Homo sapiens: one gene and its partner. The protein of the gene in region 1 interacts with the protein of each later gene in a pairwise test. Each region holds a gene or a part of one and is shown in the gene's direction. Other genes may lie near its edges.

Region 1 (8,041 bases):
GCTAACTGCCACATCTTAATTCAAGTCCTCATTTCCATCTTTGAAATTGGTTCCTTAGTTGCTTGCAAAATCTAGTTTTTTATCAATTAATCCTATACGTGGTTTTCTGATTAGTCTTCCTAATGCCACCTCTATTCATGTTAATTCCCATTCAGAAACTCTCCATGACTATTTGTACCCCCAAATCTGTGGGGTACAGATTTTCAAACTGTACCCTGCTATGAACGCCAGCACCTGGGGTTGGGGGCAAATGGGGAGAATTGGAGTATGAGCCTTCTAGACCTCCGATGTTTGAAGATCTTTGGCCACAAAATTGATTCCTAACCTCTTAGTCTGATTTATCTTAAGAGTCTAGATCCTTTGCTTTAGCCAAATCACATCATTCCTACTTTTGCTTTTCCTTGTCCTGCATCCATTTCAGCCTGTTTTAATCTCAGCTGGCTTCTCTTCTTTCATCTGCCCTTTAAATATCAGCATTCTCTAAGACTGTATCCTCAGTTGTCTTGCTGCTCTATATGTTCTCTCTGGATAATCACATCCATTCCCTTGGCAACCACTAATGGGATCTCCATCACTCGTGTTCTGCAGTGTTATATTTTTAACTGCTTACTGGACATCTTGAAACTGAATTCATTATCTTTTCTATTCTTTTTTTTTTGAGACGGAGTCTCACTCTGTCACCAGGCTGGAGTACATACAGTGGCACAATCTCGGCTCACTGCAACCTCTGCCTCTTGGGTTCAAGTGATTCTCCTGCCTCAGCCTCCCGAGTAGTTGGGAGTACAGGCGTACGCCACCACGCCCGGCTAATTTTTGTATTTTTAGTAGAGACGGGGTTTCACCATGTTGGCCAGGATGGTCTCAATCTCTTGACCTTGTGATCCGCCCGCCTCGGCCTCCGAAAGTGCTGGGATTACAGGCGTGAGGCACCACGCCGGGCCTGAATTCATTATCTCTTCTAATGACCTAGTTGACTTTGTGAGGATATTGTGTTTGTAACTTTGTTGTTGTCGCCTGGCTTGGTGGGAGGAGTTAAATTAAACTTCCGTTAAACATCTAATGTGAGAAGCAAAATTTTTGTCTGATTTATTTATTTATTCTCCAGGTACTGAGCACCTTGTGTGTGCCTTTTAGATCTTGTTATCACCCAGTTACTGGAGCTGGAAACATCAAGGGCATCTTTAACTGTTCTTGCCCCTTGTCCCAAATTCAAATTTTTAGGAAGAATAATTCATTCTACTTCTGAATATCACTTAAATCAATTTTTGTGTGTGTTTCTAGTTCAGGCAAGAGATGGGTAGTACAATAATCTTTTCATTGTTCTTTCTGCCTCTAATTTCTCTTCTAATCTAGCAATGTTTCTAGAAAAGCGATCTTAAAAGATATATCTGATTATGTTATTTGCCTTATTAAAAACCTTCAGTGGCTCCCAATAGCATACATCTTAGAGTTATTAGATGCCAAAGTGTTTTATATCAAAGCAGACCACTTTAACCTCCAAAATTTTTTAAAAATCAGATTACTACTAACCAATTTTGCTCTTTTATTAACCCTGTAAAAATATAGATACCCATGAGCTTTGAAATTTCTATGTCTAGTAGGCTGCTCTCTCATGCACCCATATATTTCTTTTTGTTTTGTTTTGTTTTTTGAGATGGAGTCTTGCTCTGTCACCAGGCCTGAGTGCAGTGGCGTGATCTCAGCTCACTGCAATCTCTGCCTTCTGGGTTCAAGTGATTCTCCTGCCTCAGCCTCCCGAGTAGCTGGGACTACAGGTACGCGCCACCACACCCAGCTAATTTTTGTATTTTTAGTAGTGACAGGGTTTCACCATGTTGGCCAGGATGGTCTCGATCTCTTGACCTTATGATCCGCCCGCCTCGGCCTCCCAAAGTGCTGGGATTACAGGCGTGAGCCACCGCGCCCTGCCCATCATATCTTTTTTCACATTTTTTTTTTCTTCTAAAATATGGGTTCTTAGATTAGGTCCACAGAGGGTACTGTGGAGAGCCTAGAGTTTCAAGATGCATGAACTTTCTGAAATTGTATTCAAATGTATGTTTGTGCACGTTTCTAAGCATTATGAAATAATACGTCATCTCTAGCCCAGCTCAAAGGTTGATGTTGGTTAACCTCCTTCTCTTCACATTGCAAAATCCCTCATAATACACTCCTAATCCAGCTACTCCTCTTAATAGTCTACAGGTTATCAGGATAGAACAGGAGAATGTGTATACAAATGTGACTTTCATTCTAACTTAAAGGTACTAGTCTTCAGCAGATCAGTTATTTATCATCATTTAAAAACTTCATTCATCGTCAGGGCATTTGGTGCTGAAGAGTGACTGCTTGTGATGTCCTTCCCAACTTCCAGTAACAAAAGTATAGAAGTTCCCAACTTTCATACTTTGAGTATATCCCAAATTTCAGTAATAAAAATAACAAAGGCCAGGAGTTTGAGACCAGCCGGGGCAACATAGCATGACCCCCATCTCTACAAAAAATTTAAAAATTATCCAGGTGTGGTGACGTGTGCACATAGTCCTAGCTACTTGGGAGGCTGAGACAGGAGGATTGCTTGAGCACAGGAGTTTGAGACTGCAGTGATCTATGATCACACTACTCTGATCTATGCACTCTAGCCTGGGTGACGGAGCAAGACCCAGTCTTAAAAAAAAATTGCTCAAATATTTGTGGAATGAGTACCAACTAAGTGCCAGGTACTGTGCTAAGCACAAGGGATTCTACAAGGGTGAAAATGGATTTTACTTTCAAGAAGCACAGGAAATTAGAGACAATTAACAGGGAATTAAATTGCAGTGAGCTATGTACTTATATCTGGAACCTAACCCAGACCTTTGGGGTGATGTGAAGAGGGGAAAATGTGATTGATTTTAATGGTTATTGGGTTGTCTCACTGATGTATTGTGGTCCTATGTTAAATTAAAATTTTCTAAAGGTACCTAGAAATCTGAGTACAGGAAGAAGAGAAATTAGCAGCCCATTTACTTAGCTAACATGCTTGACACGATACTAAGCTCTGGGAACATCACAACAAATAAAAATTGGTTCCTCTTCTCCAGGGCTCAAGTGCTGTATCTGAGGAGGCCCATACCTTTAAACAAGTAGTTAAAATCAAGACCATCTGTACTGTGATGGCAGTAGGTATAAAGCACGCAAGCCCCCCTGTATTTGCATAGCCGTATGCTTGTATTTTGGGCTTTCTTCTTGCTAAGCCTTAGCCTCCTCTGCTATAACAGTTGCTTTGGCGAGGTGACAATGGGTGGACGCTGGAGTAAGGAACATAACGGGCCTGTCACAGTAGAGAGAGAGACAGTTTTGGATAGGAGTCTAGAAGTTGTATGTGTTCTAATCCTGGTTTATACACGTTTAGCTTATTTGTATGTCCTTTGTTTATACTCATTCTCACACATGTGCGACTCTTCTGATTCTCTTCTGATGTTCCCGCTATTTTAAAAATATATGCATGGCACCATTTGCTCTTAGAGTGCCATCGTGTTTTGAAGCAGTGTGAATACAGGTATGTGTTTCTCACTTTATTCACAAAGCTTTGAGACAGCCCACAGTGAGATCATATGCAGTAATGTTAGAATGTAAATAGCAGTAACAAATTGGAGTATCAGAAGGCTAAGATGAACAAAGGTTAAGTTGTAGGTAATGAGTTTTCAGATAAGTATTATATTATTTCAGTGAAGAGTAGAAAGAAAAAACATTAAAGTAGCTTATACCAGTAGCTTATTCATTCCAGCAATCTTATCAGAGAGGCTCTAAAGGGACATTTTGTTCACAAACTTAGAAATTTGCCCATCATGATGACATTTATGGGTCTAGCTTTGTACTTATCCTCAAACTAGCAATAATTACAATAATTTTTGAGTGCTTACTATATACCAGGCTTTGTTTAAAGCACTTTTAATCATCAGAATAAACCTATGAGGTAGGAATTATTTTACAGCTGAGGAGACTGAGGGTTAGAGAAGTTAAGCAGCTTTCTATGGTCACACACGCACTTCCTAACAGTATTAGTCAGCTACCAGGTAACAGTAAGGATTCAACCCAGGCAGACAGGCTCTCAAACCAATGCCGTCTCCCTGACTTCCTTAGATGTATGTTTAGGTATGAATAAAGAAGAAATGTCTATATAAAAGGCGTGTTTGTACTTTATTTTTCAAAGAGATCATCTTCAGACACCAACGAAAGTGAAATAAAGTCAAATGAAGAGCCACTCCTAAGAAAGAGTTCTCGCCGGTTTGTCATCTTTCCAATCCAGTACCCTGATATTTGGAAAATGTATAAACAGGCACAGGCTTCCTTCTGGACAGCAGAAGAGGTACGTGGCATTGCCTCCAAGAGCATTCACATCCTATAGTGCAGTGTTCCTTCTTGTTTTACAGGATATTGAATAACTTTAACTTATACATTGAAGAAGATCAGTTGTAGAAGATAAGTGTTGGAATTACTGAGACTAAATATGATGTTCTCAATGTTTTAGTTTAGATTACTATCTATAAACAAGTTTTCTGCTGCAACAATGGCATCTAATTCTGCCAGATTTTTATTTCCAATATATTAGAACATTTTTTTTCTTTTTCTTTTTTTTTTTTTTTTTTGAGACAGAGTCTCACTCTGTCACCCAGGCTAGAGTGCAGTGGCGCGATCTCAGCTCACTGCAAACTCCACCTCCCGGGTTCAAGCGATTCTCCTGCCTCAGCTTCCTGAGTAGTTGGGATTACAGGCGCCAGCCACCACGCCCAGCTAATTTTTGTATTTTTAGTAGAGATGGGGTTTCACCACATTGGCCAGGCTGGTCTCAAACTCCTGACCTTGTGATCCACCTGCCTCAGCCTCCCAAAGTGCTGGGATTACAGGCATGAGCCACCACGCCCAGCCAACATTTTCTATTTTTAAACAGACTTTTAGTTTGATATGGCCAAGTAAGACTTGTCTGACTAGTCTTACAAGGTCAGCAGAATAAGTAAAATTGCAGCTGTAGTCAAAAAATGAGTGAAAGCTGTAGCAACTCTGCTTTCAATTGAGAGATTTATCTGATTGTACAAAATGAGCCGCTGCATGAAGAGTTTGATCCTCTAGGCTGTGGACTCACTCCCGAGTCAGCCAGGTGGAACTCACAGTGCTGCTCCCAGTTTGGCCCTGCCCTCAGCTACATCAAACGTGACAGAGTTGCCACTAATAGATCAGCTGTAGAAAGCTTTTTGTTAATTCCACCTGGGAGATCAGTTGAACACAGCAAACTAGAAAATATTTGCTGGTTGGTAAGGACAGTGGTCATGAAAATGATTGCCCTGTAGTCTAACTGAACAAATAGTTATTGTCTTGATCTTTAAATATAATGGGTGATACCTATACAGCACTCTTGTTCTGTATATGTTTGTATATGTATCTCTATAGATAGATGTATCTATTTGGATAGATAGATTTGAATCTATTTTTCAAGACATTAATTCTATAAATGTTAAACACATGCTGTTAAGAATGCAGGCTATGGGGTCAGACTGCCTAGGTACAAATCCTGTGCCACTACTTACTAGCTATGGAACTGGGAAAGTTACATAACCTCTCTGTGTATCCTCATCAGTAAATTAGGCTAATTGTACTTGGCTATTTGTGTTGTTATGAGGATTTATGAGATATTTAAAATGGTAGTTGACACTTAGTAGGCACTAAATAAATGTAAACTATTATTTTATGCACAGAAGGGGGAAAATTTAACCTAGAAATCAGAAGGCACCAGTGTTTGAAGCTTCTATTACACTAATTTTACCCACTTACCCATCTTTGTTATATTGTAGTGTTATATTGTCAACATCTTTGTTATATTATAGTTGACATATAGAGCAAAAAACCAAACCACACAAAAACAAACACCCAATATTTTCATACGTGGTCATAATGCTTGACACACCTGACTGTCCCTAACTGTCTGTGGTTTTTAGAAAGGTTTTTTGTTAGATACGGTTCAGAGAACGAGTGGAATACGCAGGTGGCTTTTTCGTTCATTATGTTAAAAAGGTACTTAGGATTCTTAGGATTCTTGAAATTCATTTGGAAATTAACTTGCATCTTTTAGCAAAGGTAATATGTGACCTGTAACAAAGCAACACTAATTTTTAAAAACTGAAATCTACAGGTTGGTACGTGTTCTGTAGCTAATTATAGGACGATTCAAATACATATTTTGAAGATAAATCAAACACATTTTTAGTTCCACATATTTTTCATTTACAAATTATGTAAGTTACCATTTAGTCAGCTTAAATGGTTGAGCTTAATTCTTAAATATGGCTGATCAACAGAAACCCTGATCAAAAGACAAAAGTCTGGGGTTTGGGACTTTTTTCTTTAAAGCCACTCAGGCAGTTATGATAATTGTCTAGTTTGGAATCAGTATTTAAATGATGAAATTGAGAATTTGCTCAAATAAGAAAAAGCTAGGCAGGAAGGGAATATTTCCAATGTAGTGTAAATAAAATTTAGAAGACCTTTGAAACTGAGTGTTCAAAGAAATAATTTTAATATTTAAGAGGAAGCATCTTACAATATTAACATTTAATATCAAATATATAATATATAAGAGGTCGAGCATGGTGGCTCACACCTGTAATCCAAGCACTTTGGGAGGCTAAAGTGGGCAGATCACTTGAGGTCAGGAGTTTGAGACCAACCTGGACAACATGGTAAAACCCTGTCTCTAGTAAAAATACAAAAATTAGCCAGGCGTGGCAGCAGGTGCCTGTAATCCCAGCTACTCAGGAGGTTGAGGCAGGAGAATCGCTTGAGCCCAGGTAGCAGAGGCTGCAGTGAGCCCAGATCATGCCACTGTATTCCAGCCTGGGCAACAGAGTGAGACTGTCTCCGAAAAAAAACCTGAGGGGTTATAATATATATGAATGAAGAAGATGTCCTTCAGTTAAACCTGAGTTGAGCTTTTAATAGAACAGAACTTGATTTTTAGGTTGCATATTTTAAAAGATGAAGACAAATATTTCCTCCACCCTGCTCCGTTGTATCCCCAGTGCTTAGCACGGTGTCAGGTGTGCAGTAAGTGCTCAGCAAACACTTAAAGAATAAATTAGTGGGAAAAAGGATTTGGAAAATAGCATGTGATTAAAAGATTGGGACATTAGTCCTTTTTGGAAAGGTCAAAGAGATTGAGGCTTGAGGCTTTGTGGGTTTTTTTTTTTTTGTTGTTGTTGTTGTTTTGTTTTTGAGACAGAGTTGCACTCTGTTGCCAGGCTGGAGTGCAATGGCACGATCTTGGCTCACTGCAACCTCCTCCTCCTGGGTTCAAGCGATTCTCCTGCCTCAGCCTCCCAAGTAGCTGGGACTACAGGCATGCGCCACCATGCCTAGCTAATTTTGTATTTTTAGTAGAGACAGGGTTTCACTATGTTGACCAGGTTGGTCTCAATCTCTTGACCTCATGATCCACTCACCTTGGCCTCCCAAAGTGCTGGGATTACAGGCGTGAGCTACCGTGCCCAGCCGAGGGTTTGTTAGAGTAAATAAAAGAAAGGCAAAAGACAAAGACAATTACATATTTCAACTGTTCATGAAGTTAATTATGAAAAATATTTAAAAGATTTTTTCTGACAAAATTGAAGCAGGATAGTTTCTCCGATCCCTTCGTGGGTGGGAACTGGAATGCGCATGCTGGAGCTAGCTGGCTGCTTTGGCGCTGGCAGGGGCAAACTCCACTCACTTGAACCCATTGCGCTCAGCCCCTTGAGGGAGGGAGCATGCAGGTGAGCAGGTGCAGGAGCTTGGGTGAATTCTTTTGGGCACCGGCAGGAGCAAAACTCCATGCAGGCCTCATGGCAGCATCTGTGAGGAGTACCCACAACCCTTGAAGCCCCAGAAGGAATGTGTTATAGTTAACTCTCTTTTAGCTTTTGCTGTCCGCAGATGGCTTAAGTTTTAACGGCTCAGTGGGCCCTCTGCCTTTTCACATGGGGCAGTTGGTCTCCACCAGTGAGGGCAGAGGGTCAGTGTGACAGCTTTT
Region 2 (8,041 bases), on another chromosome or scaffold:
CTAAAAGCAAACAGATTCATGGTTGAGAGGGCATATGCTATTTTTTGGGAGTCCTGGGTCTCTGTTAAATTACTAAATGGCTATGTGACTTGGAGTGAGTCATTTTACTTCTGGCTTCATTTTCATCTATGATATTAGATATTTAGATTTGACTAGATAATCTCTAGAATCCTTTTTAGCTCAGGTTTTAGAATTCTGGCTTATTTTAGCAGTAATAAGAGCAGTTATCATTGATTGATTGCTTACTGTATGTTAAGTTTGTTATAAATGTTTTACATGAGGTACTCATTTGACCCTTACTACAACGCTATGAGGTAACTATGATTATAGACTCATGCCAGGAATTTTATTCCTTAAAATAACCTTGTGAATAAAGGTACCATTGTCTAATTTTACAAGTGAGGAAATTGAGACTTAGAAAGTTGTTACTTTCTGAGATCAATCACTTAATATGTGGTAGAGCCAGGATTCAAGATTTATGCATTGACACTTTATGATGTAAACTTTAGCCCTTTGTTAGTTTACTGTTCAATGGGAGTCAAGATAATAGTTTTGGATTTAAATCCTAGCTCCACTACTTAACTAGTAATGTGGCCTAGAGTTAGTTATTTTGTGTCTGAGTTTGTTTCCTTTTCTGTAAGGTGAAGAAAATATCTAACTCTGTAGAATAAAGTTCCAGAAGGAAATTATTCCATTATGTTGTGTTTTGGAGGTGCTGTGATATATACAGCACTTTACACAGTGGTAGAGTGAGCTATTGCTCACTTATCTTTCTAGACTGTTTAAAGGCTTGTGTTGGGATCAGAAGGGTTAAAGAATTTGATGAAGTATCTTCTAGTCGTAGGAGTCTCTATTTTCTTAACATCATTCTAGAGTCCACTTATTGCTGAGAATCTCCTTTTACCTTATTTATTGCCCTGATATAGCTATCGCATATAATTCTTATTGTAAATTGCCTTGATTTCTTTTGGGAAAAAGGCATTGTAGTAGTGTTTATATTCTTTTTTACTCTACCCAAAGTGTATCTTTATATAACGACCTTTAGAAGATGTAGAGTTTAAATTTAGCTACCTTGATTTTGGATCCCTTTGGCCTGTAATTGTTACATCTCATTATAAATTAGAAATGCCATGAGGTAACTTAGTACATAATTGTAATTTATTCAACATTTTGTTGATTTTATTTGGGCATTTTTCCAAAGCAGAAGTAGAGATGGAGAGCAGGTAAAACTTCATAGATTGCTACCTAGAAATTAGGCATCTTTTTTGATAAAAGAATGGGGCCATTTTTTTCTTTTCTTTGCTGAGTGCCCTCTGTCATTTCTATCATGGTCTCTCTTTTAGACTAATGGCAATTCCAATGGCCTTGTACCGATGCTGAGAGTATATAACAACACAGCTCGATATGTGGATCAAGGTGGGAACAAGGTATGCTCCATGAATTGAAAGTACTGGAAATCAGAACTAAAGGTGATTTAGTCATATACACTTAAGATGGTTCATTTATGTGTAGTTTCTAATTACCTTTTTTTTACTTGTAAAATCAATTTGAGGAGGTATAATTATTTTAATATGCATATACTTTAAATGTACAGTTTGATGGGTTTTGACAAATGTATACACTTGTGTAATCACCACATTGATAAAGAGGTAGAACATTTCCATTACCCCAAAATCTTTTCTCCCTCATATACCTTTACATTCAGTCACCCCTGTCACCCCTACCCACACATACTTTATCCCTGGCTCTAGACAGCCACTGATCTATTCAGCTTTCTTACATGATAGTTCGTTTGCAAAGAATTTCTCAAGTTGTAATTCATATAAATTTGTTACTTGAAATGGGGTTGTAACATGTGCTCTAGGTTTTTCTTTCGTTTTTTTTTTTATCTCTCTCTTATCACCCAGGCTGGAGTGCAATGGTGCGATCTTGGCTCACCGTAGCCTTGACCTCCTGGACTTAAGTGATTCTTCTGCCTCAGCCCTCCCATGTAGCTCAGACTATAGGCCTGTGCCACCACACCCAGCTAATTTTTATATTTTTTGTAGAGGCGGGGGTCTCACTTTCTTGCCTAGGCTGATCTCAAACTCCTAGGCTCAAGCAATCTACCTGCCTTGGCCTCCCAAAGTGTTGGGATTATGGGTGTTAGCCACTGCACCTCGCCTAGGTTGTTCTTAAAACAAAAACAAAAACTACCTGGAATAACAAAACTCTCCCTAATTGGCTGGATGCAGTGGCTCCTGCCAGTAATCCCAGCACTTTGGGAGGCTGAGGTGGGCTGATCGTGTAAGCTCACAAGTTCAAGACCACGAGTTCAAGCTCACGAGTTCAACATGACGCAACCCCATCTCCACAAAAAATACAAAAATTAACCGGGTGTGGTGGCGAACGCCTGTAGTTTCAGCTTCTCTGGAGGCTGAGGTGGGAGGATGGCTTGAGCCCGGTAGGCAGGAGGTTGCAGTGAGCCGAGATTATACCACTGCACTCCAGCCTGGGCGGTAGAGCTAGAACTTGTCTCAAACAAAACAGAACAAACAAACAAAAACTCTCCCTAATTGATAGAAGAAACAGTAAAGTTGAGAGAATTGGGTTGTTTACCTTATTTTATCAACAGGATGGTTTACAACTAGAGTCTGCCTTTTGTGACTGTAGGCACACTAATCGCTTGTTGGTTTATGAATTTCTCTCTGATGGACTTTGGGGACCTTGATAAGACAGATCAACTTTTTGACCTACAATAAGAGCATGGCTTATACTGTCAAAGCAACTTCCTTTGGGCTTTATGTACATGTCATGTGGTGTAAAGAGAGCTGGGCTGTTGCTGAAGAGGAGGCTCCATCTGTAGTTCATCATGTCACTTTAGAAAAGTTAATCTTGTTTCACATTTTGTTTATATCATTCGTTCGTTTTTACTCATAGAATTGTAAAATATTACTTTTACAATTATATATGGAAAACTTACACTTTTATAATACTTTTATTTATGTTATTTAATTCATTGTAGTGAAAATCAAAGGAGATACTATAAAAGTGCTTTGGGAGACATGATGTTTCTTTGTTTCATTTTTATTCTGAAGAGAATTATGATTTATTTACCACTAGCGTCCTGGGGCATTTGCTATTTACCTGGAGCCTTGGCATTTAGACATCTTTGAATTCCTTGATTTAAAGAAGAACACAGGAAAGGAAGAGCAGCGTGCCAGAGATCTTTTCTTTGCTCTTTGGATTCCGGATCTCTTCATGAAACGAGTGGAGACTAATCAGGTGAGAGATAGGTACTTGTTGGTAATAGCAACTTGATTCACATGAGCTTTCTCTTTTTTAGTCATCTTAAGTCATGCTTAGGAAGAGCCCATATGTGTGTGATGCCACAGAAGGCATTCTGAACAAGTTAAGAGATGCCGTGCTTGTCTTCTTATATTTCTATTCTCTAAAGTAGATGCTTTGTGACCTAAATGCTTAAAAGGTCATGTATAAACAGGCAGACCTAGATGTTTGGGCCTGAACCTGAAAATGATTATTTCTACAGCAAATTTCCAAGAGAGCTTGTAAAAGTCACCTTATGCTTGCAGTGTTTCTAATGGATTATGGTTGGCTATTTGAAGTTTCTTATGAGTGATTTTGTCCTTTCCTTTTTAGGACTGGTCTTTGATGTGTCCAAATGAGTGTCCTGGTCTGGATGAGGTTTGGGGAGAGGAATTTGAGAAACTATATGCAAGGTATGGGAAAAATATGAAAGAAAACAATAATGTTTTAATCATGGTTTCTCTTATTTCAGGGGTCCAAATATCAAAAGTACTTGTCAAGAATCTTTTGAAGCATCTAAGAGAAAAAGTGACTAATAATTTTGGTCAGATTTGCTTCCTGACTCTTCACCAAAATTGAGTTGTGTCTTCTTCTTTCTTAAAACTTTGGAATGTATAAATAGGTTCTTGGGATTTTTAATTGATCCTTTTAAAATTTAAGATGACTAGTAGGGTTATTATTTTGCTCTGTCATATAGTACTTTTGATAAGCTATGCTTTATGTTGCATAAAGGAATCATGAGTGACTAGGACACATATGTCAGTAGTTTATTAAAATTAAATAGGTCAGGTGCAGTGGCTCACATCTGTAGTCTCAGCACTTTGGGAAGATGAGGCAGGTGGATCATTTGAGGTCAGGAGTTCAAGACCAGCCTGGCCAACATGGTGAAACCCTGTCTCTAGTAAAAATACAAAAATTAGCTGGGCGTGGTGGTGCACACCTGTAGTCCCAGCTACTTGGGAGGCTGAGGTAGGAGAATTGCTTGAACCTGGGAGGTGGAGGTTGCAGTGAGCTGAGATTGTGCCACTGCACTCCAGCCTGGGTGATAGAACGAAACTCCGTCTCAAAAAAAAAAAAAGGAAAAAAATTTAGCACAGTCTTAAGAGATTTGGCTTCCTTAGTTTTTACTCCTTTTTATTATGAAAGATATTATTGGTTTAGTGGGATTGCGATCATCTGAAGGCACCTAAAACTGCCTCATTTTCCCCTATGGCTTTAGCTAGAGTAAAATAAATATCATATTCCTTTTTTTCTTTAGCAAAACTTAGAGAAAATTTAAGAGTTTTCATAACTTTATATTTTAATGTCTTCAAGTTGTCTACAATAAAGTTTTTTTAGGGAATATATATTAAATAATATTATCTGTGCCTTTCAGTTATGAGAAACAAGGTCGTGTCCGCAAAGTTGTAAAAGCTCAGCAGCTTTGGTATGCCATCATTGAGTCTCAGACGGAAACAGGCACCCCGTATATGCTCTACAAAGATTCCTGTAATCGAAAGAGCAACCAGCAGAACCTGGGAACCATCAAATGCAGCAACCTGTGCACAGAAATAGTGGAGTACACCAGCAAAGATGAGGTAGGTAGAAAAAATTCTTCCTAGAGTACTAAGAAGAGAACCTTAGGCAGTTATTATTTGTGAATTCCTCACTTGATTTCACTTGAGATAAGTGAAGGGAGTTTGCATAGTTGTAAGCAGAAGAACACTGTTAAAGGCAGAGAGCAAAGGAAGGAAAGGGTATGATCTGTGCCTATAAATGTTTTTTAGTCTAAGCCGTGTGGGAAAGACACAGTTTTTTCTTATACACACATCACTGTAATAACATTTACTCAAGAAAAATAGAAATATACAGTTATGTTAGTTTAGGACACACACAAAAATGTGTTAGGATGTACATTCAATTTAAACTATGTAAGCCTTGAGCCTGGAAAGTGGAGGCTGCAGTGGGCTGAGATTGTGCCACTGTACTCCATCCTGGGCGACAAAGTGAGACCCTGTCTCAAAACAAACAAACAAAAAACCAAAAACAACAACAACAAAAGTATGTAAGCTTATAAAGAGAGTCCTTTCAGTGAATGGTGAGATCAAATTCTAATCTCAAGTCTGTAAAGAGACTTCACAGAAGAATCAAGGCTAGAAATGGGACATGGATTTGGTGTTTTAAAAAAAAGTTTGAGAGAGGAGCTTTCCATTTGGAAAGAGTGGTCTGTATGATACACCAGAGACAGGGCTGGGTTTTATGCAGTGTGGCAAGTAAGTCTGTTTTGATGGTGCAAGTAGATTAATTATTGGAATATGGAGAGATGGCTATGGCTGGGGGAAGGGAGATAGAAGGTAGAAGCTGACACGTCACGGATAGGTAGCCCTTGTAGGTTTCTGAGAGGAAAATAGCATCAAAATGTTAAGATGAAAAGGAAGGTTCTTGCTTCTGGTTACAGAGTGTCTTGCTGTGAGAAGGGATTAGAGGTTAGCCTAGGGAGATTGTTGTACTAGTTGGATGACAGGCTGCTTTGATCTTGGATGTAAACTATGGAAACGAGGAAGGAGTAGATCCTCAATTCTAGGACCTTAAAAAAAAAGACAAATGAAAAGTCAGGAAGTAAATGGAAAGTGAGTTAAATATACTGCTAAGGTTACAGTTTAATTCAAAATTTATTGTGCAGTAGCTATATGTAAAACACAATGTTAAGTGCTCTGAGAATATAAATAAATATGCTGCCCTCTGGAAACTTCTAATTTAGTTGGAAGACATCGACATATATTGAGGTAACTATTATGCAAGACAGATTATATTATAGAGGCTAGAGTGACATTTTTAAAATAAAAATCAGATAATGTCATTTGTCTGCACAAAACTACTCTTTGGCTTGCTAACCCATGCAGAATTCCTTTTTTTTCGGGGGGCGTCAAGATTTCACTCTGTTGCCCAAGCTGGGCTGTGGCTCACTGCAACCTCAACAGAGTTCTTTCTTTTTGCAAATTGAGCTATAATTCACTCTTTTTAAAATGTACAATTCAGTGTTTTTTTTCTTTTCTTTTCTTTTCTTTTTTTTAGTATATCTGCAAGTCTGTGCAACCATTACCACTATCTAATTGTAGTATTTATTTATTTTATTTTTTTTTTTTTGAGACAGAGTCTTGCTCTGTCACCAGGCTGGAGTGTAGTGGCTCGATCTCGGCTCACTGCAACCTCCGCCTCCTGGATTCAAGCGATTCTCCTGCCTCAGCCTCCCGAGTAGCTGGGACTACAGGCGCGTGCCACCACACCCAGCTAATTTTTGTATTTTTAGTAGGGACGAGGTTTCACTATGTTGGCCAGGATGGTCTCAATCTCTTGACCTCGTGATCCGCCCACCTCAGCCTCCCAAAGTGTTGGGATTACAGGCGTGAGCCACCGTGACCGGCCTGTAGTACATTTTTATCACTGTAGATAATGAAACCCTTTATCCATTAGCAGTCACTCCCTGTTCCCTTCTTCCCTCAGCCCTTGACAACCACTAATATATTTTCTGTCTCTAGATTTGTGGACATTGTGGACATTCCATAGGAATGGAGTCATATAATATGTGGCCTTTTGTGTCAGGCTTCTTTCACTTAACATGTTCTTTTATTCATGTTGTAGCATGTATCAGTACTTCATTCCTTTCCATCCAGAGTTCTTACAGTGCCCTACAAGGTCCTACACAACTGGATAACCCACCTCATCTGCGGTTACTTTCCCCTTTGTTCACTTTGCTCCAACCCTATTAATTTTCTTGCTTTTTCTCAAACATGTCAACCATGCTCCTACCTCAGGATTTTTGCTCCTTCTTCCCTCTTGAATGTTAAAATGCACCCCCTCTTCCCATAGCCACATGATTTGCTTTCTAACCTGTTCAGTTCTTTGTTCATATGTAACATTTTCAATGAGGTCCTTCTTGACAATTCTGTTTAAAAATTATACCCCCTTCATCTTTATCCCCAGTACTCTCTGTCTTCTTTTCCTGCCTATTTTTCTTCCTGGCATTTATTAGACTTCTGTGATTCAAGCTATATTTAAAAAAATGGGTATTTGGCAACATGTGTAGAATGGAGTAGATGTGAAGGGCATCAAGAGTTCAACTGGGAAACTTTCAGTAGTCCATGTGAGAGAAGTTAAGACTTTGGCTTGGGATAGTCATAATCAAAATGGAAAAGAAAGTGTATTCATTCAACATTATCAAGACTTACTGTGTGCCAGATGTGTTGCTAGTGCTAAACATATAAATATAAATAAGATGATCCTTGTGTGAAGAAGCTCACTGCCTCGTGTAGTGGAGAAATCACTGGAAGAGCTTTTTCAGAAATCACAAATTGAGATCCATTGTTGCTAAGGGCTTGTCAGAATATCAGTGAAGGTGAGGTGGACGTGTGTGTTTTGAAGAACTCTGCAGTGATGGAAATGTTCTGTATCTGATGGCTATTGAGCACTTGAAATATGACTAGTGCAACTGAGAAACTCAAATTTTATTTCATTTTAAATAGATATATGTAGCCAGTGGCTACCATATTGCAGGGCACTCATCTACTGAATAATGAGATAGGTATATGTAAAAAGCTAATTATAACATAGTGTGATATATGTCTGGTAATAGAGCTGTGTACTGTGGAACATAGGGTTCTCTCTCTCTCTTACCTATTTTGCTGATGCATGTTATAACTAACACATATGACTAGGTATTGAAGAAATAGAATCAGTGGGATTTAGAAATGGACTG

What was found.
Region 2: the proteins of RRM2B (region 1) and RRM1 interact in a two-hybrid assay, tested with the Homo sapiens proteins (one study listed by BioGRID).

What each region holds. Positions count from the first base shown.
Region 1 is NC_000008.11:102,228,459-102,236,499, reverse strand, and holds part of RRM2B (ribonucleoside-diphosphate reductase subunit M2 B), read left to right. Parts: intron 1-4,195; coding exon 4,196-4,351; intron 4,352-8,041.
Region 2 is NC_000011.10:4,118,502-4,126,542, forward strand, and holds part of RRM1 (ribonucleoside-diphosphate reductase large subunit), read left to right. Parts: intron 1-1,343; coding exon 1,344-1,427; exon of another isoform or gene 1,428-1,469; intron 1,470-3,102; coding exon 3,103-3,264; intron 3,265-3,639; coding exon 3,640-3,719; intron 3,720-4,681; coding exon 4,682-4,883; intron 4,884-8,041. UniProt on the Homo sapiens protein: Provides the precursors necessary for DNA synthesis. Catalyzes the biosynthesis of deoxyribonucleotides from the corresponding ribonucleotides.